Linked DNA regions of Homo sapiens. The protein of the gene in region 1 purifies or fractionates together with the protein of each later gene. This does not show direct contact. Each region holds a gene or a part of one and is shown in the gene's direction. Other genes may lie near its edges. The genes, in order: ZNF346, YBX2, BRIX1, CTCF, ELAVL2, YTHDC2 and ZNF512.

What was found.
Region 2: the proteins of ZNF346 (region 1) and YBX2 purify together in Homo sapiens (co-immunoprecipitation; 2 studies listed by BioGRID and IntAct, with this or other methods). This does not show direct contact.
Region 3: the proteins of ZNF346 (region 1) and BRIX1 purify together in Homo sapiens (affinity purification with mass spectrometry; 2 studies listed by BioGRID and IntAct, with this or other methods). This does not show direct contact.
Region 4: the proteins of ZNF346 (region 1) and CTCF purify together in Homo sapiens (co-immunoprecipitation; 2 studies listed by BioGRID and IntAct, with this or other methods). This does not show direct contact.
Region 5: the proteins of ZNF346 (region 1) and ELAVL2 purify together in Homo sapiens (affinity purification with mass spectrometry; 2 studies listed by BioGRID and IntAct, with this or other methods). This does not show direct contact.
Region 6: the proteins of ZNF346 (region 1) and YTHDC2 purify together in Homo sapiens (co-immunoprecipitation; 2 studies listed by BioGRID and IntAct, with this or other methods). This does not show direct contact.
Region 7: the proteins of ZNF346 (region 1) and ZNF512 purify together in Homo sapiens (affinity purification with mass spectrometry; 2 studies listed by BioGRID and IntAct, with this or other methods). This does not show direct contact.

The regions. Positions count from the first base shown.
Region 1 is NC_000005.10:177,039,409-177,043,530, forward strand, and holds part of ZNF346 (zinc finger protein 346), read left to right. Parts: intron 1-1,717; coding exon 1,718-1,821; intron 1,822-2,369; coding exon 2,370-2,462; intron 2,463-4,122.
Region 2 is NC_000017.11:7,287,349-7,291,847, reverse strand, and holds the end of YBX2 (Y-box-binding protein 2), read left to right. Parts: intron 1-271; coding exon of another isoform or gene 272-316; intron 317-665; coding exon 666-755; intron 756-1,312; coding exon 1,313-1,597; intron 1,598-1,776; coding exon 1,777-1,880; intron 1,881-2,122; coding exon 2,123-2,318; intron 2,319-3,009; coding exon 3,010-3,060; 3' UTR 3,061-3,099; intron 3,100-3,204; 3' UTR 3,205-3,585; downstream 3,586-4,499. UniProt on the Homo sapiens protein: Major constituent of messenger ribonucleoprotein particles (mRNPs). Involved in the regulation of the stability and/or translation of germ cell mRNAs. Binds to Y-box consensus promoter element.
Region 3 is NC_000005.10:34,921,960-34,926,081, forward strand, and holds the end of BRIX1 (ribosome biogenesis protein BRX1 homolog), read left to right. Parts: intron 1-257; coding exon 258-328; intron 329-579; coding exon 580-629; intron 630-735; coding exon 736-809; intron 810-1,041; coding exon 1,042-1,092; intron 1,093-1,173; coding exon 1,174-1,275; intron 1,276-2,887; coding exon 2,888-3,016; intron 3,017-3,266; coding exon 3,267-3,536; 3' UTR 3,537-4,037; downstream 4,038-4,122. UniProt on the Homo sapiens protein: Required for biogenesis of the 60S ribosomal subunit.
Region 4 is NC_000016.10:67,621,526-67,625,025, forward strand, and holds part of CTCF (transcriptional repressor CTCF), read left to right. Parts: coding exon 1-66; intron 67-3,500.
Region 5 is NC_000009.12:23,696,814-23,700,935, reverse strand, and holds part of ELAVL2 (ELAV-like protein 2), read left to right. Parts: intron 1-4,122.
Region 6 is NC_000005.10:113,568,756-113,572,877, forward strand, and holds part of YTHDC2 (3'-5' RNA helicase YTHDC2), read left to right. Parts: intron 1-4,122. UniProt on the Homo sapiens protein: 3'-5' RNA helicase that plays a key role in the male and female germline by promoting transition from mitotic to meiotic divisions in stem cells.
Region 7 is NC_000002.12:27,589,109-27,593,230, forward strand, and holds part of ZNF512 (zinc finger protein 512), read left to right. Parts: intron 1-4,122. UniProt on the Homo sapiens protein: May be involved in transcriptional regulation.

The DNA.
Region 1 (4,122 bases):
AGACATCTTAAAAGCTCCCCACCAAGAACCTCTTCCAGGGCATCGACTTTTTTTTTTTTAAGACAGGGGCTTGCTCTGTTATCCAGGCTGGAGTACAGTGGCACTAACATGGCTTGCCATAGCCTTGACCTCCTGAGCTCAAGCAATCCTTCTGTCTCTGTCTCAGCCTTAGCCTCCCATGAAGCTGGAACCACAGGCATGTGCCACCACCCCCGGCTAGTTTTTGGTTTGTTGGTGTGTTTGTTTCTATGTAGAGACAGAGTCTCACCATCTTGCCCAGGCTGGTCTCAAACTCCTGGGCTCAACCCATCCTCCCACCTCAGCCTCCCAAAATGCTGGGATTACAGGTGTGAGCCACTGTGCCTAGCCTTGACCACTTTTTGGCTGAGACCAGGAGATTAAAAATGTGGGCCTGCCCTCCTCTCCCAGTTTTAGACTCTGCCTCTGCCTCTGCCTCACATTGCCAGCGCCATGATAGAACTCATGCCTTGGCCGGGCGCGGTGGCTCACGCCTGTAATCCCAGCACTTTGGAAGGCCAAGGTGGGTGGATCACGAGGTCAGGAGATCGAGACCATCCTGGCTAACACGATGAAACCCCGTCTCTACTAAAAATACAAAAAAATTAGTTGGGCGTGGTGGTGGGTGCCTGTAATCCCAACTACTCGGGAGGCTGAGGCAGGAGAATGGTGTGAACTTGGGAGGCGGAGCTTGCAGTGAGCCGACATCATGCCACTGCACTCCAGCCTGGGTGACAGAGCGAGACTCCCTCTCAAAAAAAAAAAAAACAAACAAAAATGAACTTATGCCTTGGGAGAGATTTTACCTCCTCTTCTCTTCTCAAAAAGGTAAGACTGTTCTCCAGGCACAATAATTTAAGCACAGGTTAATACCATGTTTCATATAGTGTGGCACTTATATAATACGTTATGTGATTTTATTTTATTTATTTATTTAGAGACAGAGTCTAGCTCTGTCACCCAAGTTGGAGTTAGTGGCACAACCTCAGCTCACTACAACCTCTGCCTCCTGGGTTCAAACAATTCTCCTGCCTCAGCCTCCCGAGTAGCTGGGATTATAGGTGCCTGCCACCACACCTGGCTAATTTTTGTATTTTTAGTAGAGACAGGGTTTCACCATGTTGGCCAGGCTGGTCTCGAACTCCTGATCTCAGGTGATCTGCCCACCTCGGCCTCCCAAAGTGCTAGGATTACAGGCGTGAGCCACCACGCCCCACCCTGTTATGTGATTTTAAATGTTTCAAAGTCAGATCAAGAACAATGAGAAAAGTATTCCTTTTTCGAGTCTTTCAGTCCTCCTGATTCTATCTGGGAAGAAGTTTCAGTTGGGTGCTACCATATCTTAAAACCTCTCAGCACAGTTGCTGTTCTCTTCTTCCTGGGGAATGCTCCAAGCCTCATTTTTATCATATTTATTTTTATTGGTATCTGCTTAAGTTTATGATCTAAAGATTCCTTTTTAAAAGAAGTTCCTAAGTAAAGAAAGTTGGCATACATAAAATTATAAAATAAGTAATAGTGTAGGTGGTGTGAGAACACAGCATGAGTCACGGTGGCAGTAGGAAAGGCTGGCTGAGGTCTGCCAGTGTCCTAGTATGGCATCCCATCATTCAGTGCCTGTGTTTGAGGCAGGGTTCAAAGGCAGTGCTGTTGAGGTAGTGTTTGTCAACTCAATGATTTCTTGTTTTCCCCTCTATAGTGGAGCACATGATCCAGAAGAACCAATGTCTCTTCACCAACACCCAGTGTAAGGTTTGCTGCGCCTTGCTTATTTCTGAGTCCCAGAAGCTGGCACATTACCAGGTATGCCATCATACTTTTAGAACTGCGTTTCTTTTCAGACCTGGTGCCAAACCACTAATTCTCTCTGGCTTGCATGGTGAAGTGTAATTGCTGCTTAGCCACCCAGATGTTGCCTCCATGCATGTTGGCTTGTGACTTGAAGATTGACTTAATCTCCTTGAGTCTCATCTCCCCCATCCAAATCAGGATCATTATATGTGTATCTTCCCTTGCAGCTTGGCATAGCATAAAGTATGAGCTTTGGCTTTAAATAGATCTGACTTTAAATCAAAACTCTGCTACTCATCTTGAGCAAGAAACTTCATCATTTTTAGATGTAGTTTCCTCATCCATAAAATAGAAATGGTCATAATTTTCTCATAGATTGTGAAGATTAAATTTGGTAGCTGTAAAATGCCTTGCACAGAGCAGGAACTCAAACTTCCCTCACCTCCTCCTCAAAACTTTTTGTGAGGATGAATCAGATGAAAATCTCATAAGTGTTTTTGAGTGCCTTAAGTATGAAGTAGCATTTGGCTATCTTTGATCTTTCTCCTGGGTTTTTGCAGAGCAAAAAACATGCCAACAAAGTGAAGAGATACCTAGCAATCCATGGAATGGAGACATTAAAGGGGGAAACGAAGAAGCTAGACTCAGATCAGGTAATACAGCTGCCATATTGAGCCCACTTGCTTCATGATGAAGCCAGCCAGCAGGTTGGTGTGGTGAACAAGTCAGACTGTCTTGGCTTCAAATCCTGGCCCTGTTGTGTGACTCGGGCAAGTCTATTACTTCACAAAGCCTTGATTTCTTCCTCTATAAAAATGAGGATGGTAATATCAACTACCTTTCAGGATTTTTTAGAACTAAAATTGAGGGCAGATTTATAAAAAGCACCCAATTCAGAGCCTGGCACATAGTAGGGACTCAGTAATGGAGCTGGTATTACATATTACCGCCTAGTGGTTTGTTAGAGCAAGACAAGAGAAAATGGAAAGAAGCCAGGCTGCTTGCTTTCTTGAGGGCCAAGGAAAAGAACTAAGTTCAGCACTTGAATGTTTTGCATAAATAAGCAGAAGGAACACCTTTCCAAATGTCTGCTGTGATTGAGAGGTGATCACATGTGCTTTTTGGCTCAGAAATAATATGAGCATTATGCTGAAGCAACCCCCAATCCCTCAGGAGTACCATCTCATCATGGGAAGAGAAGTTAAGCAGACTAGGGCTCAAAGCTGGCTGTGTGTCTTACTGATCGGGTGAGTTTGGCCAAGTCACTTAACCTCTGTGAACTTCCCCCATAAAGTAGAGATAATGCCTACTTCTTAAGGGTATTGTGAGGTAAAATTTCAATTCCTAGTAGATGCTCAATAAATAAGAGTTTACTCTATAGACTGCTACCTCCTATTATAGTAGCCACAGGTCAGGAAGGTCCTTGTTTATCTCTTCTCAAAATTTACTGGACTCATCCCCTGGTTTCCCTTATTATTTATTTATTTATCCCTGGTTTCCCTCCTTTCTATTTCTCTATCTGTCTATTTGTGAGACAGGACCTGGCTCTGTTACCCAGGCTGGAGTGCAGTGGTGCAGTCACGGCTCACTGCAGCCTCAACCTCCCAAGCTCAAGTGATCCTCCCACTTCAACCTCCCAAGTAGCTAGGACTACAGGCACACACCACCACGCCTGGCTAACTGGAGTGCAGTGGCACGATCTCAGCTCACTGCAACCTCCACCTCCTGGGTTCAGGCGATTCCCCTGCCTCAGCCTCTGAAGTAGCTGGGACTACAGGCACGCGCCACCACACCCAGCTAATTTTTGTATTTTTAGTAGAGATAGGGTTTCACCAGGTTGGCCAGGCTGGTCTCAAACCTCTGATCTCAAGTGATCTGCCTGCCTCAGCCTCCCAAAGTGCTGGGATTACAAGTGTGAGCCACTGCGCCCAGCCGCCTGGCTGATTTTTTAAAAAATTTTTCGTAGAGACAGGGTCTCGCTTTGTTGCCCAGGCTGGTCTCAAATTCCTGGTCTCAAGTGATCCTCCCACCTCAGGCTCCCAAAGTACCAGGATTACAGGTATGAGCCACCACACCTGGCCCTTTTCTCACAATTTATAATTCAGAAAGGCAAGATAAACTCTATGACCCTGGGCAAGTTATTTTACATATTTGCACCCTATTCAGAGATCAGGCTTTCTGAGAGAGATGCTGGGATCCCTTTATGTAGTCTTGAAATACATGGTTTCCTAGCCTAATCATAATCAACAAGTAGAACGCAATGGGAGGCTGGGTGCGGTGGCTCATACCTGTAATCCTAGCAATTTAGGTGGC
Region 2 (4,499 bases), on another chromosome or scaffold:
TCAGAATTGAGCATGTTACCCCTGGGCATGGCACGCTTACTACCCACCGGGACCTGTTAACACTCCAGGAAGCACTGAGGCAGTTTTCAGAGGGAGAAGGTCCTTGGGTGCAGTGGTTCTCAAAGCGTGGCCCCTGCACCAGCGGCAGCAGCATCACCTGACATCCGAATTCTCAGGTCCCACCCCAGACCTGGTGAATCAATCAGAGCTGGGGCTGGGGCTCCACAATCGGTTTAACGAGCTCTCCAGGTGATTCTGATGCACGCTACAGCTTGAGAACCACTGCTTGGTGGAAAGAGCTCTCACTGGGACTGAGGTAAGAAGCACAGTGCATTCTACCCACTTTGCGACTGAAGGCTGTCCCTGCCTTTTGCTTTGGAGTTCATATTTCTTGCCTCCCTTTCTGAAATCCCTGAGGGGTAAAGCGGGGCGGGAGGGGAGGTGCGGGGAGTGCATCCTGGGGATGGTGGTAACTGCACAATCTGCTGAGGCCCTGAGTTCAGGACTTTTCCCCTGCTAAACTTTGACCACCTCCTTGCTCCACCCTCCAGCTCTAGACCCCAAGTCAAATGTTGAAAGAATGAAATTGGGTGGTGGCCCCAGCAGGGGTGACAGAGACTCCTGTCTTGCTGTCTCACTTTTCACATGGCCTTTTCCCCAATCAGACAGCTATTAAAAGAAACAACCCCAGGAAGTTTCTGCGCAGCGTTGGAGATGGGGAGACTGTGGAATTTGATGTCGTGGAAGGAGAGAAGGTTTGGGGACTGCTATGGGGTATAGAGTTGACTAGGCTTACGGGAGGGTGGCCTGGAGGTCATCACAGGCTAAGACCCTCCTGGGGCCAGCTCTGACCCGTTCTGCGGGAATGGGACTGTGTTCTCTCACCCTGATGTCCTCTTCCTTAATGCTAGGGCTAAGGGATGTCCTAAGTATGTCCCTGTCATCGGTCGGCAGTGTCTGGGTTTCTTCTCTAGTTCACCAAGCACTTCGACATCCGTTCTCCACGTGGGGCCCTGTCCTAGACTTCCCGAGTCCGCCTCTGGAGTAAAAAGGTGGATGCTGGCTGCCAGGCCTTTCTCCACCCAGTCGTATACTCAGGAGGGTGCAGTAGCAATTATTTCAAAAGGACATGTTGCTCCTTCCCAAATGGGTGCAAGCACATTCCACTGCCTCTCCAGGGAGGGTAGAAAGAAGTTAGAGGAGCTAAAGGAAAGCTGGAGAGGGGTCTTCCCCTGAAAGAAGGGGAAGCAAGTTGGGAAATGCACATTGGCTGTTGGAGCAGGTTCTCACTATTCCCTTACCACCTTCCCAGGGCGCAGAAGCCACTAATGTAACTGGGCCTGGGGGAGTACCCGTGAAGGGCAGCCGTTATGCCCCCAACCGACGTAAGTCCCGCCGATTCATCCCCCGGCCTCCCTCAGTTGCCCCACCACCCATGGTGGCAGAGATCCCCTCGGCGGGGACAGGACCTGGCAGTAAAGGGGAGCGGGCTGAAGACTCTGGGCAACGGCCCCGACGATGGTGCCCCCCACCCTTCTTCTACCGACGGCGGTTTGTGCGAGGCCCCCGGCCTCCCAACCAGCAGCAGCCTATAGAGGTGAGGGGATGCTGGAATATGGGAGCCAGTTCCCCAAGTTCAGGAGAGGAGTGGGAGTTAGGATAGAGACCATGGGTCCCCAAAGAAGGAGGAACTGAGGGTTGGGCAGAGCTGTGGATAATCTGGCTCCAGAGCAGCTGCTGTCCCCACAGCTCACCGGGGCCTTTGCATGTTCCCAGGGCACTGACAGGGTAGAACCCAAAGAGACAGCCCCATTGGAGGGGCACCAACAGCAGGGAGATGAGCGAGTCCCCCCGCCCAGATTCCGGCCCAGGTACCGAAGGTAAGACCCCCCTGCTGGGGCTTGGTCTTCCCCTTCCAGTGTTGGATCCTTGGGGCAAGGGACAGGAGGATGGAAGGGTGAAGCTCTAGGCAGAGCCTGGGCTCCTGGCGAGACAGGTGCCTTGCGGGGAGGCAGTGCTCATGGGCTGGAAGCCTGGCTCCTGGAGGTGGGGTGGGGCAGCTGGGTGAGCCCTGGGGAGGGAGTATTCCCTGGTCCCCTCAGAGCCTTGTTCCTTGCCTTAGGCCTTTCCGCCCCAGGCCACGCCAGCAGCCTACCACAGAAGGTGGGGATGGTGAGACCAAGCCCAGCCAAGGTCCCGCTGATGGTTCCCGGCCTGAGCCCCAGCGCCCACGAAACCGCCCCTACTTCCAGCGGAGACGGCAGCAGGCCCCTGGCCCCCAGCAGGCCCCTGGCCCCCGGCAGCCCGCAGCCCCTGAGGTGAGGACCTCAGATGTGGGATGAAAGAAAAGGCTGAGACCAGCTCCCTCCCCCACCTGCTCCTTTTTCTTTCCTACTCTATCCTTTGGCTCCTCCCCTCCCCTGCCCTGGCCCTGCCACCACCCTCTTCCATGCAGCCTGCTGGGTCCCCCCCTGGCAGGTGCCGCCTCCCACCAGGAAGCCCCCACAGAGGCAATCAAGCCCATGATTGCCCATGATGGCCATGCCCCCCCCAACCCATCCCCCACTTGCTGCCTGGAGCCATCCTACCAGCTTGTAGATGTGAACTGAGGGGTGTGATTGAGGTTTTAATGGGAAGGGAAAAAGTGAAAGAAGGTTGAAGTTCAGGGCCCTGAAGAACAAGTCTCAGCCCTGCGCGATGTCTCATGCCTGTAATCCCAGCACTTTGGGAGGCAGAAGCAGGCAGATCAGTTGGGGTCAGGAGTTCAAGACCAGCCTGACCAACATGGAGAAACCCCGTCTCTACTAAAGATACAAAAATTAGCCAGGCGTGGTAGCACATGCCTGTAATCCCAGCTACTTGGGAGGCTAAGGCAGGAGAATCACTTGAACTGGGAGGGGGAGTTTGCAGTGAGCCAAGATCACGCCACTGTACTCCATCCAACCTGGAGTGAGACTCTGTCTCAAAAACAAAAAGAACAAGTCTCAATTGGCCACCGCTGTTCTTTAGACCTCAGCCCCTGTCAACAGTGGGGACCCCACCACCACCATCCTGGAGTGATTCCAACTCAACTCAGAGGACACCCAGAGCTGCCATCTGGTGAGTGGCTGGTGCAGTTGGGTGGGTGGCCAGGAAGGTGAGGTACTGGGTGGCGATGACAAGTCGCTGTTGTTCACAATCCGTCCATTTCCTTTTCTCTCTCAGGTATCTGCCAGTTTTTCCAAATGACCTGTACCCTACCCAGTACCCTGCTCCCCCTTTCCCATAATTCATGACATCAAAACACCAGCTTTTCACCTTTTCCTTGAGACTCAGGAGGACCAAAGCAGCAGCCTTTTGCTTTTTCTTTTTTCTTCCCTCCCCTTATCAAGGGTTGAAGGAAGGGAGCCATCCTTACTGTTCAGAGACAGCAACTCCCTCCCGTAACTCAGGCTGAGAAGGAACCAGCCAGCTCTTACCTCCTCCTGGTTGCTTTTCTTGCCCCCACCCCAAGTTTATTTTTGTTTTCCCCCGGCCCCCTACCTCTGAAGCCATTTTATGATCTGTCATGTGCCACCTGAGCCTCCAGTAAAAACAAAAACAGGCTTTCCTGTGGTCTTGGTCTCCATCTCTTCTGTTTTGGAGAATCGCTAGTAACTCACTGTTGAAGGTGGGGAGGAGGGGATGTGGGGCCGTGGGCAGGGCCTGGCATCCTTGCTGCCATGTCTCCAGCTGTGTCCCTGGTGAAGAGTGCCCCTATCATGGGTTTCACTGCCCATCTGTGACATGGGCTGACACCTCCCTCACAGAGTGAGTATTCTGCAAATGCCAAGAGCAATGCCCGGCACTGGCAGCTACAATTTATTGAGCATTTACTATTAATAAAGCAACGAGTAGAAATGTGAGTAGGGGCATGAGCAATGGCATCCAGAAGATTCTGAGGCCTTGAGCTGAGGCAGGACAGAGGGAGGAAGAGGGGTGAAGAGTTATGGTCCCTGTCTCAGCCCATCCTCAAGTACCTCCACAATAGGATGCTTGTCTTCAGCAGTGACTTTATAGAAGTATCTATATATATACATTTAGTACAACCGACCTTTGGTTTCTTCTCTCAATCCCCTTTTCAAACGTATATAAAAATATCCAAAGGCTCCTCCCAGCCCAGTGTTTCCAGGCAGCCTTTCAAATCCCCTCTTTGCCTTAGTTGGTCAAAAGCCTGTGGATGCAGCACCCTTCCAGGAAGGGAGAGGAAGAAAGTTAGGGCTCCTTCTTGGCAGCCTTGGGAAACCATCGGGGTAGAGCCCCAAGCCTAGAGGCGGGAGCCTGCCGTCCTTCCATCTTGCCACACATGGGCACATACTTTCCTGTTCCCTCTTGCCCTGGAAGGCTGAGCCTGCAGTGAGGGAGGTGAGTCCTTTTCCCTGCAGGGGTCAAGAGAGAACTCCCTTCGCCAGGCGCGGTGGCTCACGCCTGTAATCCCAGCACTTTGGGAGGCTGAGGCAGGCAGATCACGAGGTCAGGAG
Region 3 (4,122 bases), about 140 Mb from region 1:
CATTTTAGATGCTAGGCCCAAAAATATGATAGATAATTTCACCCAAGATATGGGCAGAGCATCTAGTTTACCTTGGGTAGAATACCTAAGAGGAACTTTAAAGGTTCCTTCTGTGAATAAATACATGTTTAGGCCTTTGTAGCCTATTAGCCTGGTTAGGTATTTTTGAGATAATCTGGATGATATTAATCACATATAATTACTTTAGTTCTCATTTATATTATCTACTTCATTTTCCTATACTTTGCTTCCTTTAGGTTTGTGAAATGAAGAACTGTAATAAATGCATCTATTTTGAAGCTAAGAAAAAACAGGATCTCTATATGTGGTAAGAGAATGTATTAAGATTTTGGTTAAACTCATTTAAGTGGATTTGTTCTTTGTACCTTTTATGTTATAGACTCCTAGTGTTTCATGTTAAGGGTTGAGAATGAAGCAAACTTTTGATTTCACGAAACTTGATACCTTTAAAGAAAATTAAATGTATAAATATTATAAGCATATTATTTATGGTGAATAGGTGGTAAGCATTGACTACATTTGCTAATTAGTTGAAAAAGCTTACTCCATATCTTTCAGGCTTTCAAATTCACCTCACGGACCATCTGCTAAATTCCTTGTTCAAAATAGTAAGTTGACTCAATAAATTTTTTTAGATGAGGAAATTAAAAGTAATCTTTTGAAATAGTTGTGCAAAAGTTACAACTATTTTTGTTTTTGTTGTAATTTTTCTAGTTCATACCCTCGCTGAACTGAAGATGACTGGAAACTGTTTGAAAGGTTCTCGGCCCCTTTTGTCTTTTGACCCTGTAAGTTTCTCATTCAGTGTATGAGGTCTAATTTTCTTATCTGGCATGGTTGTTTTTAGTAGATATAGTTGTGTTATTCAATTTAGTTTCACCCCCACCTTGGTTTTATGGATTATCAATTCTTTCAGGTACATTTATAATGAGGTTATAGCCAAGTTATAGAAACAAATGAGCAAACAGTTTTAAACAAGGCAGTCTACTGTTAAATAATATGCTTACCTTATTTTTATAGGCTTTTGATGAATTACCACATTATGCTTTGTTAAAAGAACTCTTAATTCAGGTAAATATCTTTAAAATTAGCTATCCAAAATATACATGATATATCTTGGAATAAGGAACTAACATACACTTTTTTAACTAGATCTTTAGTACACCACGGTATCATCCCAAAAGCCAACCATTTGTGGACCACGTGTTTACTTTCACCATTTTGGATAATAGGATATGGTTTCGGAACTTTCAGGTAAGCTTTACTTGATTTTTAATTATACCTTTTTTTTAATTGAGTTTATTTATTTATGTTTTGAGACAGAGTCTCGCTCTTGTTGCCCAGGCTGGACTGCAGTGGCACAATCTTGGCTCACTGCAACCTCCACCTCCCGGGTTCAAGCTTCTGCTCCCTCAGTCTCCTGAGTAGCTGGGATTACAAGCACCCATCATCACGCCTGGCTAATTTTTGTAGTTTTAGTAGAGACGGGGTTTCGCCATGTTGGCCAGGCTGGTCTCAAACTCCTGACCTCAGGCCATCTGCCCGCCTTGGCCTCCCAAAGTGCTGGGATTCCAGGCGTGAGCCACTACACCCGGCCTAATTTTTTTTTTTAGAGATAGAGTGTCGCAGTGTTGCCTAGGTTGGCCTTGAACCTCCTGGCCTCAAATCATTCCTCCTCAGCATCTTGAGTAGGTGGGATTGCAGTTGTGAGCCACTGTGCCTGGTCAATTTTTAGTTAAACTTTTAGATAAGGATATACAGGGTTTGCATACACAAAAAATGCAAATAATTCTTTTGTTTTAAATAGCTTCCTTTTCCCTAAAGAGATTGCTGCAAGTAACTATGTACTGTCTTATATCTTAAGTGAGCTCTACCTACTTCTATTCATGACTGTTAGTTGATACAGAGTATGGATTTCCTAATAAGCCATTATATATTTAACTTTATAGAAAGGGAATAACTTGAAGATCCATGAGATACTTGGGTTCCTAATTTGTAGAAAGTGCTGTAAAGGATACAGTAAAATAGAAGTTTCTCTCTCAAAGCTTAGAAGTTTCTCTCTCAAAGCACCTCAAAGGTTAAGACCTAGCAAAATGTAATTGCTCTAGAAGGCATTCAATGGCAGCGGTTAGATGATGAGTCACACAGTGACTCATTCAGGAGAAAAGAGGAGGTGACTCTAGAAATCTTGAAGCAGGAGTTTGGCACGATAAGTGCAGAAAGATGAAGAGGTGGAAGAGAACAGCAAGAACAAAATTTTAGACAGTATATGACATAAACTGAGCTCTTTTCTGCATATTTTATATTGGATACCTGGCATGTGAGTTGAACACATCATCCTAACCTCTGAGGGTAGACATGCCTGAACTAATAGATAACATAAATATTTGTTGTTCGGAAGTTGCCTTTTAATTCCATAATCAGTAGCTATTAAATAAATTTGACTACATATCCTTTTAATCTAACTTGAATTAGATTTATAAAAACAATTTAGGGATTGATTTAAGTTTCAAGAGTTCCCCCATAATGTGCTTTAATACATTTTGTTAATAGTGGTTACTGTTTTAAAATCCTGTTTAACCAGTTTTTCAAGGATATATGCATTGTGACAAGCAAGATGTGAACCAAAATCTAATTACTCAATTTTAAAAGAACTCACTGAAAAAACATTTTTCCATGACAACTTCCTATAAGTACTAATAGATTTCAGAAAATATTGATGATTTGCCATTTACCAAGTTTCACCCCCACCTTGATTTTATGGATTATCAATTATTTCAGGCACATTTATAATGAGGTTATAGCCAGTATACCTTTTGGGAATAACGTAACCAAACCAAAATGAAATGTTTCCTTTTTATTAAAGATCATAGAAGAAGATGCTGCTCTTGTAGAAATAGGACCTCGTTTTGTCTTAAATCTCATAAAGATTTTCCAGGGAAGTTTTGGAGGACCAACTTTATATGAAAATCCTCACTACCAGTCACCAAACATGGTAAGCGGTTGTGTCATTCAGTAGTCTTCAATGTACCAGAACCCTTTGGCCAAAATGATTCTGTGAAGTAATTGCTGTTTTATTACCTGTGAAACTGAATTTGGTTTTTGCTGCATAGAAACTTGGAAATTACTCCCTTTTTTCATGACACTGGCTGAAAGGATATATGGTTCATAACTGAAAGTCTTTGCCTTATATAAAATGTTTATTTTTATTTCAAAAGCATCTAATCTTTTTTTTTTTTTTTTAGCATCGGCGTGTCATAAGATCCATCACAGCTGCAAAATACAGAGAGAAACAGCAAGTGAAAGATGTGCAAAAACTGAGAAAGAAAGAGCCGAAGACTCTTCTTCCACATGATCCCACTGCAGATGTTTTTGTAACACCAGCTGAGGAGAAACCAATAGAAATACAGTGGGTAAAACCAGAGCCAAAAGTTGATTTGAAAGCAAGAAAGAAACGGATTTACAAAAGGCAAAGAAAAATGAAACAGAGGATGGACAGTGGGAAAACAAAATAAGTCAATGGAAACCTGATTTGTTTTTCAGTTACTTTATATTTATTTTGTATTCAATGTGTAAATACTTTTATTATCTAATACTATCTTACGTCTAATTAGTGTAGCATTTACAAGAAAGAAAAATTAAGATCTTAAAATCAGTGATTATCTTTTTCTAAATAAAATATCACCAGAATTCATCAGTTAATTTCTGATTTCTTTTTGAAGTTTGTGTTGCTAAAAATGTAGCACACTTAATGTAGCCTGTTCTCTTGGGTTGGAATTTTTGGTTTAGCAAAGCTGAAATTCAGACATTTATTAGGTCATATTATTTGTAAAAGCATTCAACACTTCAAGAGCATCGGTTGTGGATGGTAAAGTAGGAGTAGACTGGTAGAAAGGAAGGCATCTCACTGAAGTTTACTCAGTCATCAGTTAATGAAGCCATGGAAGAACCAACCCCTGATCTGTCACTTCAAAAAAGAGTATATTAAAATGTTGAGGTTTTGAGAATCAAATGCATTAATGGCTGTGTTGAAAGCACTTTGTAAATTTTTTATTTTATTATATTTTATTTGTGAGACGGAGTTTCGCTCTTGTTGCCCAG
Region 4 (3,500 bases), on another chromosome or scaffold:
CAGAAAATGTGGCCAAATTTCACTGTCCCCACTGTGACACAGTCATAGCCCGAAAAAGTGATTTGGGTAAGTAGATTAACTAGTGAGAAGTGAAAAAAATATTTTGAAGGATTTATATTTCGAAATATGGGGATCAAAAATAACTTCACCTTCTGACTCTCATAACATTTTATGTATAGGAATGGCCTGTCACTTAGTTTAGTAAAAGCCATTGCTTAGCTGCTTTTTTTTTTTTTTTTTTTCTATTTCTTCCTTTTCTTACTGTAGTCAGGCCACAAGATTCTGTCCTGAGTAAAACTCATCTATAAATTAATGGGAGCTGTGATGGGAGGAGACAGAGTACACCTTTAATTAGTAGCCTTCCTTCCCCAAATAGGAAAGTAACATAGTGTGATTCAAACTCAGGTCATTCTATTGTATTTTTTTGAGAACGTCTGTACTTTCTCTAGGTAATGGGACTGTTTTATTGGTTTAGTGGTAACTGTATTTCTGTGCATAGTTAAACTAGAGTTTACATGCAGCCGGAGTTTATTAATAATATTTAGTGTAGGCCGGGCGCGGCAGCTCACACCTGTAATCCCAGCACTTTGGGAGGCCAACGCGGGTGGATCACGAGGTCAGGCGATCGAGACCATTCTGGCTAACATGGTGAAACCCTGTCTCTACTAAAAATACAAAAAATTAACTGGGCATGGTGGTGGGCGCCTGTAGTCCCAGCTACTCGGGAGGCTGAGGCAGGAGAATGGCGTGAACCTGGGAGGTGGAGCTTGCAGTGAGCAGAGATCACGCCACCGCACTCCAGCCTGGGTGACAGAGCGCGACTCTGTCTCAAAAAAAAAAAAGGTAACGAGTAAAAAGTGAGAGCCATCCTCTCCCTTACCTCATATCTACTCCCAATAATTAGCTCTCTTTAAGTTTAGTGGGATATCACCTCAGTTGATACAACTTGTAGTACCGTAAATACATAAATTCATGATCCCAAATGTAGCTGGGCCCTCACTGCTCCTAGCTGTTCCAGCTGTTTGTTCTTGTCAGGTGTGCTCCAGTTCTTTATGAGTGAGCGAATTCATTCCACAGTGTTTGGTGCTTATATAGAGTTGGGCAACCTACTCTTACTTTTTTTTTTTTTTTTTTTGAGATGGAGTTTTCCTCTCGTCACCCAGGCTGGAGTATGATGGCATGAACTCAGCTCACTGCCACCTGTGCCTCCCAGGTTCAAGTGATTCTCCTGCCTCAGCCTCCTGAGTAGCTGAGATTATAGGCGCATACCACCATGCCCGGCTAAATTTTTTTTTTTTTTTTTTTTTGTATTTTTTAGTAGAGATGGGGTTTCACCATGTTGGCCAGGCTGGTCTTGAACTCCTGACCTCAGGTGATCTGCCTACCTCGGCCTCCCAAAGTGCTGGGATTACAGACATGAGCCACCGCGCCCAGCCCTCACTTGCTTTTTTTTGTGACAAAGTTTTGCACTTGTCACCCAGGCCAGAGTGCAGTGGCCTGATCTCTGTTCACTGCAACCTCCGCCTCCTGGGTTCAAGCTCTTCTCCTGCCTCAGCCTCCCAAGTGGCTGGGACTACAGGTGCCCGCCCATGGCTAATTTTTGTATTTTTAGTAGAGACAGGGTTTCACCATGTTGGCCAGGCTGCTCTCGAACTCCTGACCTCAAGTGATCTGCCCTCATTGGCCTCCCAAAGTGTTGGGATTACAGGCGAGAGCTGCTACACCAGATCCCCTACTCCTATTTTCTTATAACCTCTAATTTTCCTTCTTTTTTCTCTCCCCTCTTGGTCTCAGTAAATGACTTCTCTTCCTACTTAAAAAATAAAGACAAAGGGCCAGGCGCAGTGGCTCACGCCTGTAATCCCAGCACTTTGGGAGGCCAAGGTGGGTGGATCATTTGAGCTTAGGAGTTCCGGAGCAGCCTGGGCAACATGGCAAAACTCCATCTCTACCAAAAATACAAAACGGTTGTGGTGAGGTGCACCCTTGGTTCCAGCTACTCAGGAGGCTGTGGTGGGAGGATCACTTGAGCTTAAGAGGTAGAGGTTGCAACGAGCCGAGATCGTGCCACTGCACTCCAGCTTGGGTGACAGAGAGACCCCATCTCAAAAAAAAAAAAGAATCTTAGCCAGACACAGTGGCTCACACCTGTAGTTTCAGCTATTCAGGAGGATGGGCCAGGAGTTCTAGACCAACCTGTGTGATATAGCAAGACCCCGTCTCTTAAAATAAATAAAAATATAGCCGGGCACGGTGGCTCACGCCTCTAATCCCAGCACTTTGGGAGGCTGAGATGGGCGGATCACAAGGTCAGGAGATGAAGACCATCCTGGCTAACACAGTGAAACCCCATCTCTACTAAAAATACAAAAATTAGCCGGGTGTGGTGGCACATGCCTGTAGTCCCAGGTACTTGGGAGGCTGAGGCAGGAGAATTGCTTCAATCCGGGAGGGGGAGGTTGCAGTGAGCGGAGATCGCGCCACGGCACTCCAGCCTGGGCAAGAGAGTGAGACACTGTCTCAAAAAAAAAAAAAAAAATTATATATGTGTGTGTGTGTGTGTGTGTGTGTGTGTGTGTGTGTGTGTGTGTATGTGTGTGTATATATATGTGTGTGTGTGTATATATGTGTGTATATATATATGTATTCATATATATATGTATTTTTATATATATGTATGTCTTCACCCTCTAGGTTTAACTCTTCTCTCCTTCCCAGCCAGCCTTTATGAAGAGTTAACATCCCTCACAGTCTTCTCCCCCTCATCTTTCCCTCTTGTCTGGCTTATTCCCCATCACTCTGGTATAATGACTGTTGCTTAAGGTCATGAATGACCCCACTCTCTGAATGTAGTGAAGACTCCTTTCCACTCTTCTTCCTAAGAGATGACTTGATCTGTTAGCAGTGTTCTTCATCGTTGACAGTACCCTCTTCCTTTGAAACACTTTCTTCCCTTGGCCTCTGTGACACTAAATCCTGTTGGTTTTCTTCTTCCTCTTACTTCTTTAAACTTTCTCTTATTTTAACCTTTTTTTCTCTCACTGGCCTTAACTCCAAGGTTTTTGTTTTTGTTTTTGTTTTTTACTGGAGACTGTCTTGCTCTGTTGCCCAGGCTGGAGTTCGGTGGCTCAGTCTTGGCTCACTGCAGCATCGACCAGGCTCAAGGAATCCTCCCACCTCAGCCTCCCTGGTAGCTAGGACCACAGGCACATGCCACGATGACCAGCTAATTTTTTTTTTTAGCTTTTGGTAGAGACAGGGTTTCACTATGTTGCCCAGGCTGGTCTCGTACTCCTGGACTCAAGCAATCCACCCACCTCAGCCTCCCAATATGCTAGGATTACAGGTGTGAGCCACCACACCTGGCCCAACTCTGAGACTTCTTTGTGTGTATGTGTGCTTGTGTGCTTTGTGTGAGAGACGGAGTTTCACTCTGTCACCCAGGCTGGAGTAGAGTGGCGCGATCTCGGCTCACTGCAACCACCACTTCCCTGGTTTAA
Region 5 (4,122 bases), on another chromosome or scaffold:
TTTCTGGGGTTATCTGAATTGTTTCCAGGGCTTCAGATTTCCTTTTTTTTTTTTCTTAAAGGATTTTATTCTCATGTGTCAATTTTTAGGTCAAGCTGTTTCTGTTACTTCACTTTATAGTATGTGCACCATTAAGGGTATATAACCTATGTGACTACGTGAAGTTTCTACAAATGAGTTCCTCTCTTCCTTTTCAAAATTGTTTACAAACAGGTTGGCAGACTTTCTCTGTACAGTACCAGATAGTAAATATTTAACTTTATGGGTTATGGTCACTGTTGCATCTGTCTTGTTTTTGTTTTTAAACAACCTGTTAAAAATGTAAAAGCCATTCTTAGCTTATAGCCCATACAGCAACAGGTGGGAGGCAGTCTCCATTTGGCCTGTCGGTTGTAATTTACTGACCTCTCTGTAGTTCATAGAATGACCGTGGCTTTAGCCCAAAGAAGACACTCTATCTCACTGACAGGTGTACATATGCTAACTGTTTAAGTTTTATTCTGATCCTGGGATAACAAACCAGGAGTCATTCAAAAAATCTCTAATCTGCATGTGAGAAGAACAGTGACTTTAAGAAGTTAAGCAGAGCAGAGAGTTTTTGGTTTCATAAGCAAGTCATGCAGTTTTTATTTTCCAGGACATTTTTAAATATCCTTTTTGGCCATATGGTACACTATACCCAGAATGCTATCTAACCCCACACTGATTTTTAAAAATTATTTCCAAGTGCATATCAATTTTATTTATTTCATTCATGGGACAGAATAGTTAATTACCAAAAATATAATCACAAATATAACCTAATAAGATCAGGAGTTATGTTTTCTAGCTTAAATCTATGCATTTATTTTTTTCATTGGAATATTTGCAGTGCTGAAGAGAGTGGAGATAAAATCAGTTAAAAATAGCTCCTTTTAAAAAAATACTAAATTATGTTGCTTGAGATATGAGAAGGAAATTTGTTATGAATGCCACATTAAATTTCAACTTAAGTTGGCCTTTGCCGTGGGAGAAGAGGTGGTACTGTCAAAAGCATTGAGCCTTGTACTTCATGCTCTGCTGTGAGGAAAAGGCATTGGTATTAAAAAAAAAAAAAAAAAAAAAAAAAAAAAAAAAAAAAAAACCTTTGCCACCTTTGACTTCCCATGGTAGTGGTGATCAGACTAGTGTGGGAGATGCGTGGGGCTGCCTGATGCTTGCCTTTGTGGAGAAAGAAGTCTCACAAAGAAAGCCCTTTTTCAGCTCTGCACATAGGTTTCCTCTGTGACATCTTAAGTGAATAATATATGTATAAATATACTTTTTTAAATTGCAAACGTAGGATGAACAAGCCTGAAGGAATTTTACAGGTATTTCCTAGGCAGCTTGTCCAGTTAATTTCAGAGCTCTTTGGGGCCTTGAAAATGATCTCGAGTTTAGATAGAACAAAGTTCTTCATAATGTATTGGTTGATTTTTAACATTGTGAAGTTATAAAATGTTTGCTGTTAGTGGAAAGCTATATTAGCTACTTTTTTTTTCCAGATTGAAGCAATGATTTTGTTTGATAGTTATTAAGTAAAACAAAGTTCTTGGAATCAAGATTGAATTCTTAGGAAGATTGAGAAGACAGGATTTGGGAGAGTGCCTGATTATTGAAATGGCAAGGCTTGTAGGTGACTCAGGTGCTAGGTTGTTGATGGGTGTCAGCCCTTAGGTTTACCTAGCCTCCATCCCTGCAGGCTCTGTGCTTTTTATTTTTGGTTGAGTAAAGCTTTACAGGATGTTCTTATGGTCAAATTTAATTATCTTTTTCTGGCCCATTCTGTGTTTTTATCTTTTAGTACCATATGTTATCATTAACTTGAAAATTCTTTTTCCTTCACTCCTATAGAAAGACATTTTGGAAGAAGAGAATAAGAGATTGTCAGTTGTAAGGGAAACTTGGTTTCAGAAAATGGGAGAAATTGTTATTCTCTCTTCAGATTTTTAACTGTTGTCCCATTCACCCCATTTCTCATTCCTCCCATGATCCCTGTCCAGATAATAAAATATGAACGAGTTAGTGTGCTCAGAGATAGTGTTTGATCTAGATTGGGTGTGTTGGAAGAAATCAGATTTCAGGTTTAACCTGATGTTTGATGCTTTTCTTTAATACAGTATATTGAACCTGGTTGTCATTATCTTGATTTCCGCCCCACTCCCCCTTCTTCTTTCACCTGATAAAGAAACTTGAATTAAGGGCTTGCTTGTTTTGTTGGTATTTTGCTGTTTTCTGTAGTTCGAGTCTAAATCATCACACAGATATATTTTGTCCCTGATATTTGTGTTTTAATGCTCTTGCCTTGAGTTTTTGTCACCTTTCAGCAGACATGTAGAAAATTTCTCACTGTATTTTTATGTTCTCATAGTACCTTGGGAGTTGAGAGAGATTGAGCAATATAAGTTATATGTATTATGGTCAAGAATACTTTTAATAATCATAAAGTATGAGCCATATCTTTTATGGTCAAAAAGCTTAAAAATCCATGTAATAAGGGTTAAGTTTAAAGGTGGGTTTGTGAGGTTTATGGCTTAGTCAATCTATGAATAATCAGAGAATTGTTGTAATATGAGCACTGCTGGTCTAATACGCTTATTTAATTGACTGCAGTTTTCAAAATAGGACAAGCCTTATTTATTTGGATGGATGGTGTAATTCAAGCCCCTTAAGTATATTCTTGGGACATGATATCAGAATTAAACTTTAAGCCAAATTTTTTCATGTTCTTTTCTGTGAAACAGCTATAATTTTATTGAATATGATCTAGTGTAATGACCTGTGTGCCTGCTTCTATGAGCCTTTATGCATTTTTTAAAAAGCCTTTTAAATGAGCACTTGAGTTGCCTTTAAGGCATGACGTACTGGTTGCATTATCACAATTTCCTTTTGGAAGAAACCGGTATCAATCCCCTTGAATACTTTTCCTCTTTCTTAGAGGACAGATGATACCATCTAATTGAATAAGGCAGTAAGGCAGTAAGAAGATGATCTTGTTGTAGATAATTTCCAAGCAGTTCTCGGTTGGCGCTTTGGAGAGATTTTGATAATCATTATTTGTGGGATTCCGAGTATATTTTCTTACCCATCAATAACTTATCTTCCTATTTTTATTTCTGACTTTAATCGGGTTCACATTTCCCCTTACTTACATGTAGGCCTTCCCATAGTCCATCAGCTAATTTTTTTAGAAATTAGGCAGGTACTTTATTTTTATTTTCTACTTATGAACACCTAGCTTTAAAATAGGAATGATCTGATACATGGTTCTGTTCAAAATTTTGACAGGTTATAATTGGAGCTTTGGTCCTGTTGATAGAAAAATGTTTATACACATCTCTCTCCTATGTGCCTTTTTCATAAATTACATATGTACATGGGCGTGTGCTATTCATTAAATTATAAACTCTAATCAAACATAAAAAAGGATAAAGATGAGACAATCTGTATTAAATGTCTTGCTAATTACTATACTGGTTGGCTTCATTTTCCATGTACCTAATATCTTAATAAATGTCTTTTAAAGCAAGACCATAAAATAATTTCAGATATCTCATCTGACTTCATGTGATGCATGTTGGATTATCTTGTGTCTAACCTTATAATGTAGCTTGTACTAAGAGTAGGAGAAATAATCGGCTCTCCCTTTCCTTATTTACTTGTATTTCCCTTACTGGTACCATTCTTTACTCTGATTTACATTTGTAGTAATCTTTTTTTAAGTTACTTTTTCTTTAAATGGAGGTCATTTTAATTAAAGCAGGTTATCCAGTCTAATCCTCCATATCTGCTTGCTGTGTTATTTGTAAAATGGATTTTGTTCAGGCTAAAGAGCAGGAGAGAGTGCCACTCGCCGCCTCTCCCCTTCGATGATTGCTCAGTCTTCCCCCAGGGAGGCAGGTGATACACAGGACTGAGAAGGTACTGGGTTCAGTGCATCTATTAAATATAAGTAAAAAATACTTTATTTTAAATACATATTTATTTTATATTTTATTTTAAATATATATTTAATGGATACTTTAATATTTACCTTCCATATGTACTACGTTATCATCCACACCCCTCCCTGAGATATTCTGGAGGCAGCTAGCTTGCTCTCCA
Region 6 (4,122 bases), about 63 Mb from region 1:
TCTTTATCTAGCCTACCATTGATGGGCATTTGGGTTGATTCCATGTCTTTACTATTGTGAATAATGCTGCACTGAACATACAAATGTACTTATCTTTATAATAGAATGATTTATATTCCTTTGGGTATTTACCCAGAAATGGTATTTCTGCCTCCAGGTCTTTGAAGAATCACCATGCTGTCTCCCATGGTGGTTGAATTAATTTACACTAGTGTAATTTAATTACACAGTAGTGTAAAAGTGTTCCTTTTTCTCTACAACCTCACCAGCATGTTGTTTTTTGACTTTTTAATAATAGCAATTCTGATCTCATTGTGGTTTTGAATTGCATTCCAGTAATGATCAGTGACGTTGAGCTTTTTTTCATATGTTTGTTGGCCACATGTACATCTTTTGAAAAGTGTCTGTTCGTGTCCTTTGCCCACTTTTTAATGGGTTGTTTTTTCTTGTAAATTTGCTTAAGTTCCTTGTATACTCTGGATATTAGACCTTTGTCAGATGGATAGATTGCAAAAATTTTCTCCCATTCTGTAGGTTGTCTGTTTCCTCTGATGATAGTTGTTTCTTTTGCTGTGCAGAAACTTTAGTTTAATTAGATCCCATTTGTCAATTTTTGCTTTTGCTGCAATTGCTTTTGGCGTTTTTATCATGAAATCTTTGCCTGTGCCTATGTCCTGAATGGTATTGCCTAGATTTTCTTCGAGGGTTTTTATGGTTTAGAGTTTTACATTTAAGTCTTTAATCCATCTTGAGTTAATTTTTGTCGAAGGTGTTAGGAAGGGGCCCAGTTTCAGTTTTCTGCATATAGCTAACCAGTTCTTTCAGCACCATTTGTTAAATAAGGAGTCCTTTCCTCATTGCTTGTTTTTGTCAGGTTTGTTAAAAATCAGACGGTTGTAAGTGTGTGGTCTTATTTCTGAGTTCTCTATTCTGTTCCATCATTCTATGTGTTTGTTCTTATACCAGTACCATGCTGTCTTGGCTACTGTAGCCCTGTAGTATAGCTTGAAGTCGGGTAGCGTGATGCCTCAGCTTTGTTCTTTTTGCTTAGGATTGTCTTGGCTATATGGTCTCTTTTGGTTCCATAAGAATTTTGAAATCGTTTCTTCTAAGTCTGTGAAGACTGTCAGTATAATGGGAATAGCATTGAATCTGTAAATTTCTCTGGGCAGTATGGCCATTTTCATGATATTGATTGTTCCTATCCATGAGCATGGAACGTTTTTCCATTTGTTTATGTCCTCTCTGATTTCTTTGAGCAGTGATACGTAGTTCTCCTTGAAGAGGTCCTTCACTTCCCTTATTAGCTGTATTCCTAGGTATTTTATTTTACTTTATTTTATTTTATTTCATTTTTTTGAGATGGAGTCTTGCTCTGTCACCCAGGCTGGAGTGCAGTGGCACAATCTCAGCTCACTGTAACCTCCGCCTCCTGGGTTCAAGCAATTCTCCTGCCTGAGACTCCTGAGTAGCTGGGATTACAGGCACGCACCACAATTCCTGGCTAATTTTTGTATTTTTACTAGAGACAGGGTCTCACCATGTTGGGCAGGGTGATCTTGAACTCCAGACCTCAAGGTGATCCATCTGCCTGCCTTGGCCTCCCAAAGTGCTGCAATTACAGGCGTGAGCTATCATGCTTGGCCTTTTCCTATGTATTTTATTTTTGTTGCAATTGTGAATGTGAATTCATTCATGATTTGGCTCTCTGCTTGCCTGTTGTTGGTATATAGGAATGCTAGCAATTTTTGCACATTGATTTTATATCCTGAGACTTTGCTGAAGTTGCTTATCAGCTTAAGAAGCTTTTGGACTGAGATAATGGGTTTTCTAGATGTAGATCATATCAACTACAAACAAAGATAATTTGACTTCCTCTTTTCCTATTTGAATACTCTTTATTTCTTTATTTTGAGATGGAGTCTCACTTTGCCGCCCAGGTTGGAGTGCAGCGGTGTGATCTCAGCTCACTGCAACCTCCGCCTTCTGGGTTCAAGCAATTCTGCTGCCTCAGCCTCCGGAGTAGCTGGGATTACAGACGTCTGCCACCATACTCCACTAATTTTTTTTGTATTTTTAGTAGATTTGGCATTTCACCATGTTGGCCAGGCAGGTCTCAAACTCCTGACTTCAAGTGATCTACCACCTCGGCCTCCCAATGTGCTGGGATTATAGGCATGAGCCACTGCACCCACCCGACGTGAATACTCTTCATTTTTTTCTCTGGCCTGATTTCCTTGGCCTGAACTTCCAATCCTATGTTGAATAAGAGTGATGAGAGAGGACATCCTTGTACTGTGACAGTTTTCAAGGAGAATGCTTCCTGCTTTTGCCCATTCAGTATGATACTGGCTGTGGGTTTGTCATAAATAGCTCTTATTATTTTGAGATATGTTCCTTTACTACCTAGTTTATTGAGTTTTTAACACGAAGACATGTTGAATTTTATTGAAGGCCTTTTCTGCATCTATTGAGATAATCATTTGGTTTTTGTCTTTAGATCTGTTTATGTGATGAATTATGTTTATTGATTTGCATATGTTGAACCAGCCTTGCATCCCAGGGATGAAGCCAACTTGATTGTGGTGGACAAGCATTTAGATGTGCTGCTGTATTTGGTTTGCCCATATTTTATTGAGAATTTTTGCACTGATATTCATCAGGGATATTGGCCTGAAGTTTTCTTTTTTGTTGTATCTCTGTCAGGCTTTGGTATCAGTATGATGCTGGTCTTACAGTATGAGTTATGGAGGAGTCCCTCCTTTTCAGTTGTTTGGAATAGTTTCAAAAGAAAGGGTATCAGCTCTTCTATGTACTTCTGGTAGAATTCAGCTGTAAATCCATCTGGTTGGGCTTTTTTGGTTGGTAGGCTCTTTATTACTGCCTCAATTTCCAAACTTGTTATTGGTCTATTCAGGGATTCAGCTTCTTTCTGGTTCAGTCTCAGGAGTATGTATGTGTCCAGGAATCTACCTCTTTCTTCTAGATTTTCTAGTTTATTTGCATAGAGGTGTTTATAGTATCCTTTGATGGTAGTTTGTATTCCCATGGGGTCAGTGGTGAGATCCCTTGTATCATTTTTATTGTGTCTATTTGATTCTTCTCTCTTTTCTTCTTTATTAATCTAGCTAGCAGTCTGTTTTATTGATTTTTAAAAAGAACCAGCTTTTTGATTTGCTGATTTTTTTGGAGGGTTTTTCCTGTCTCTATCGCCTTCACTTCTGCTCTGATATTAGTTATTTCATGTCTTCTGCTAGCTTGGGTTTGTTTTCTCTTTGTTCTCTAATTTTTTAAATTGAGATGTTAGGTGGTTAACTTGAAATCTTTCTAGCTTTCTGATGTGTTCATTTAGTGCTATGAATTTCCGTCTTAACACTACTTTAGCTGTGTCCCAGAGATTGTGGTACATTGTCTCTTTGTTCTCATTACTTTCAAATAACTTCTTGATTTCTGCCTTAATTTTGTTATTTACCCAAGAGTCATTCAGGAGCAGGTTGTTCAGTTTCCATGTAGTTGTGTGGTATTGAGTGAATGTCTTAGTCTTGAGTTCTAATTTGATTGTGCTGTGGTCTGATAGACTGTTATGATTTTACTTCTTTTACATTTACTGAGGAGTGTTTTACTTCCAGTTATGTGATCAATTTTAGAATAAATGCCATGTGGCGATGAGAAGAATGTATATTCTCTTGTTTTTGGGTAGAGAGTTCTGTAGATATCTATCAGGTCCACTTGATCCAGAGCTGAGTTCAGGTCCTGAATATCTTTGTTAATTTTCTGTCTTGATGATCTGTCTAATGTTGTCTGTGGGGTGTTAAAGTCTCCCACTATTATTGTATGGGAGTCTAAATCTCTTTGTAGGTCTCTAAGAACTTGTTTAATGAATCTGGGTGCTCCTGTATTAGCTTGCATATATATTTAGGATCATGAGTTCTTTTTGTTGAATTGAGCCCTTTACCACTGTGTAATGCCTTTCTTTGATCTTTATGGTTTAAAGTCTGTTTTATCAGAAACTAGGATTGCAACCACTGCCTTTTTCTGTTTTCCATTTGCTTGGTAAATTTTCCTCCATCCCTTTCTTTTGAGCCTATGTGTGGCTTTGCATGTGAGATGGGTCTTTTGAAG
Region 7 (4,122 bases), on another chromosome or scaffold:
TTTTGTAGATTCCTTGGGATTTATTTTGTAAACAATCATATAATCTGCAAGTAGGGACAGTTTTGCTTTTTTCCTTTTGATCTTGTTTTAAACCTATTGCAATGGCATTCAGCAGTGAAACTACATGGGCCTGTAGTTTTCACTGTGGGAAGGATTTCATAAATTCAGTTTATTTAATAGATATAGGGCTACTTAGATTTCCAGTTTCTTCTTGTGTCAGTTTTGGTAAGTAGTATTTTTAAAGAAATTTGTTCATTGTAATTTTTCCATTGATTAGCATAAAGTTATTCAAAGTATATTATTACTTAATGTCTACATAATCTGCGGTAACCCCTTTTTCATTTGTGATATTGGCTATTTGTAGTGTCTTTTTTTGTAGATCAGTCTAAGTCTAGCTACAGGGTTGTCAATTTTGTGATCATTTCAAAGAACCACATTTCCCCTATTGTCTGTTTTCTAGTTCATGGGTTTCTCCTCTTACCTTACCTTTTCTTTGGTTTACTTTGCTTTTCCTTTTAAGGTATCTTAAGATGAAATCTTAAGTCATTGATTTTAGATCGTTTCTAGTATAAGCATTTAAAGCTTTAAGTTTCTAAGTATTGCTTTAGTTGCATCCTACAAATGTTGATATGCATATTTTTGTTGTTTTTCAGTGCAAAATATTTTCAAATTTCATTTGTGATTTCATTTTGGACCTATGAATTATTTAGAAGTAGATTATTTAATTTGCAGATATTTGGATTTTTTGTGTTTTTTGTTTTTAGATATCTTCCTATTATTGACTCCTAAGTTGATACCAATGTGGTCAGAGAATACACTGTGTAATTCTCATCCTTTTAATAAAAGTTAAAGTTGATGGCCCAGCGTAAGATCTAGCTTAATGAATGCATAATGTGCACTTGAAAAGAATATATATCCTGCAGTTGTTAGATGTAGTGTTGTGTAAATGTTAACTAGAGCAAGGTGGCTAATAGTGCAGTTCAGATCATTTATGTCTTTTACTGAATTTTTATCTAGTTCTATCAGTTGCTGAAAGGGGGAGGTCTTAAATTTTCTGCTAAGATTGTGGAATTGTCTATTTTTCCCTTTAATTTTGTCAGTTTTCGCTTTGTGTATTTTGAGGCTCTATTATTAGGCACATACAGTGGGTAATTATGCCTTCCCAATGATTTGACACTTTTGTCATTATGAAGTGTCTCTTTTTATCTCTGGCAGTACTCTTTGTCTTGAAGTCTGTTTTATCTGATATTAAAATAGTCATTCCAGCCTTATGTTTGCTGATTGTATGATACAATTTTTTCATCTGTTTATTTTCAATCTATAGATGTCTTTATATTTTAGAGTGTGCTTCTTGTAGGTAGCATGTAGTAGGGTATCACTTTTTATTTTACTCTGTCATTTGCTGACTTTTAACTGGAGTGTTTAGACTGTAAACATTTAAATTAATTATTGATATGGTTGGATAGGTCTGCCCTTTTATTTTTTGTTCTCTGTTTATCCATTGTTTTTTGTTCCTGTGTTTCTTCTTTTGGATTATTTGAATGCTTAGTGTCTGCCCCTACTCTTGTTTTTTTAAGAGACAGTGTCTTGCTCTGTTGCCCAGGCTGGAGTTGGTGGCACATTCATTGCTTGCTGGGCTGAAGTGATCCTCCCACCTCAGCCTCCCAAGTAGCTGAGATTACAGAGGTGTGAGCCATCTACCCCGGCCTGTTTACCATTTCTGTTGCTCTTTCTTCATTCTTAAAAATCCAAGTTTCTCTCTGGTATTATTTTTCTTCAGCTGGAATCATTTGTTTTAGCATTTCATATGGAGCAGGTCTGCTTACAATGAATTCTCTTAGTTTTATTTCTTAGGATATTTTCACTGAATATAGAATTCTGAGTTGACAAATTTTTTCTCTCAAAATTTTAAAGATATTTCTTTTTCCTTTTCTTTTTTCTTTTTAGAGACAGGGTCTCACTCTGTTGCCAAGGCTGAAGCGCAGTGGTGCGGTCATAGCTCACTGAAGCCTCAAATTCCTCAGCTCAAGGGATCCTCTCACTTTAGCCTCCCAAGTAGCTGGGACTATAGTTGCATGGCACCACACCTGGATAATTGCTTTAAAATTTTTTTATTTTTATTTTTGTGGGTACATAGTAAGGATATATATTTATGTGGTACATGAGATGTTTTGATACAGGCATACAATGTGAAATCACATCATGGGGAATGGGATATCCATCCCCTCAAGCATTTATCCTTTGTGTTATAGACAATCCAATTACACTCTTTTAGTTATTTAAAAATGTACAATTAAGTTCTTAAAATTATTATTATTATTATTTTGAGACAGAGTCTCGCTCTGTCACCAGGCTGGAGCACAGTGGTGTATCTTGGCTCACTGCAACCTCCGCCTCCCGGGTTCAAGCATTTCTCCTGCCTCAGCCTCCCGAGTAGCTGGGACTACAGGCGCATGCTACCACGCCCAGCTTTTGTATTTTTAGTAGAGATGGGGTTTCACCATGTTGGCCAGGATGGTCTTGATCTCTTGCCCTTGTGATCTGCCCACCTCGGCCTCCCAAAGTGTCGGGATTACAGGCGCGAGTCACCGCGCCCAGCCTTAAAATTATTTTTTGTAGAGACAAGGTCTTGCTATGTTGCCCAGGCTGGTCTTGAACTCATGGGCTCAGTCCCCCTGCCTTGGCCTCCCAAAGTACTGGGATTACAAATGTGAGCCATTACACTGGTTCGATTTTAAAGATACTGTACTGCCTTGTGGCATTCTTGGTTTCTGTTGAGAAACCCATGGTCATTTAAATCATTTCCTGTAATGTAATATGTCACTTTTCTGAAGCTTTCTAGTTTAAAACAAAATCTTTGGCTTTGAATAGTTTCTTATTTATTTAAACAATTTTTTTGAGACAGAGCCTAACTCCCGTTGCCCAGGCTGGAATGCAGTGGCGCAACCTCTGCTCACTGCAGCCTCATCCTCCTGGGCTCAGGTGATTCTCCCACTTCAGCCTGCTGAGTAGCTGGGACTACAGGTGCACACCACCACACCTGGCTAATTTTTTGTATTTTTAATAGAGGTAGGATTTTGCCATGTTGCCCAGGCTGTTCTTGAATTCCTGGGCTCAAGGGATCTGCCTGCCTCAGCCTCCTAAAGTGCTGGGATTACAGGCTTGAGCCATTGCACCCAGCTTAGTTTTTTTATTTATTTATTTATTTTTATTTTTTTTTTGAGATGGAGTCTCGCTCTGTAGCCCAGGGCAGCTGGAGTGCAGTGGCATGATCTCGGCTCACTGCATCCTCCACCTCCCAGATTCAAGTGATTCTCCTGTCTCAGCCTCCCAAGTAGCTGGGACTACAGGCACCCGCTACCACACCCAGCTAATTTTTGTATTTTAGTAGAGGTGGGGTTTCACAATATTGGCCAGGCTGGTCTCCAACTCCTGACCTCAAGTGATCTGCCTGCCTTGGCCTCCCAAAGTGCTGGGATTACAGGTGTGAGCCACCATGCCTGGCCTAGTTTATTTTTTATTGAGTTAAAGTATACCCATATAATTTACCATGTTTACCTTTTTTTTTTTTTTTTTTTTTTTTTTTTTTGTTTGAGACAGAGTTTCGCTCTTGTTGCCCAGGCTGGAGTGCAAATGGCGCGATCTTGGCTCACCACAACCTCTGCCTCCCAGGTGCAAGCGATTCTTCTGCTTCAGCCTACTGAGTAGCTGGGATTATAGGCATGTGCCACCATGCCCAGCTAATTTTGTATTTTTAGTAGTGACGGGGTTTCTCCATGTTGGTCAAGCTGGTCGTGAACTCCTGACCTCAGGTGATCCACCTGCCTCAGCCTCCCAAAGTGCTGGGATTACAGGCGTGAGCCACCACGCCTGGCTGATACATTTATATTCTTTTTCTTTTTTTCCTCTCTTCACTCCCTCATGTCTCCCCTCCCCTTCCTGGCTGAATAGTTTCGTTAAGATGTGTCTTGGTTGGGTACCGTGGCTCATGCCTGTAATCCCAGCAGTTTGGGAGGCTGAGGTAGGAAGATTGCTTGAGCCCAGGAGTTTGATACCAGCCTGGACAACAAAGTGAGACCCTGTCTCTACACACACACACACACACACACACACACACACACA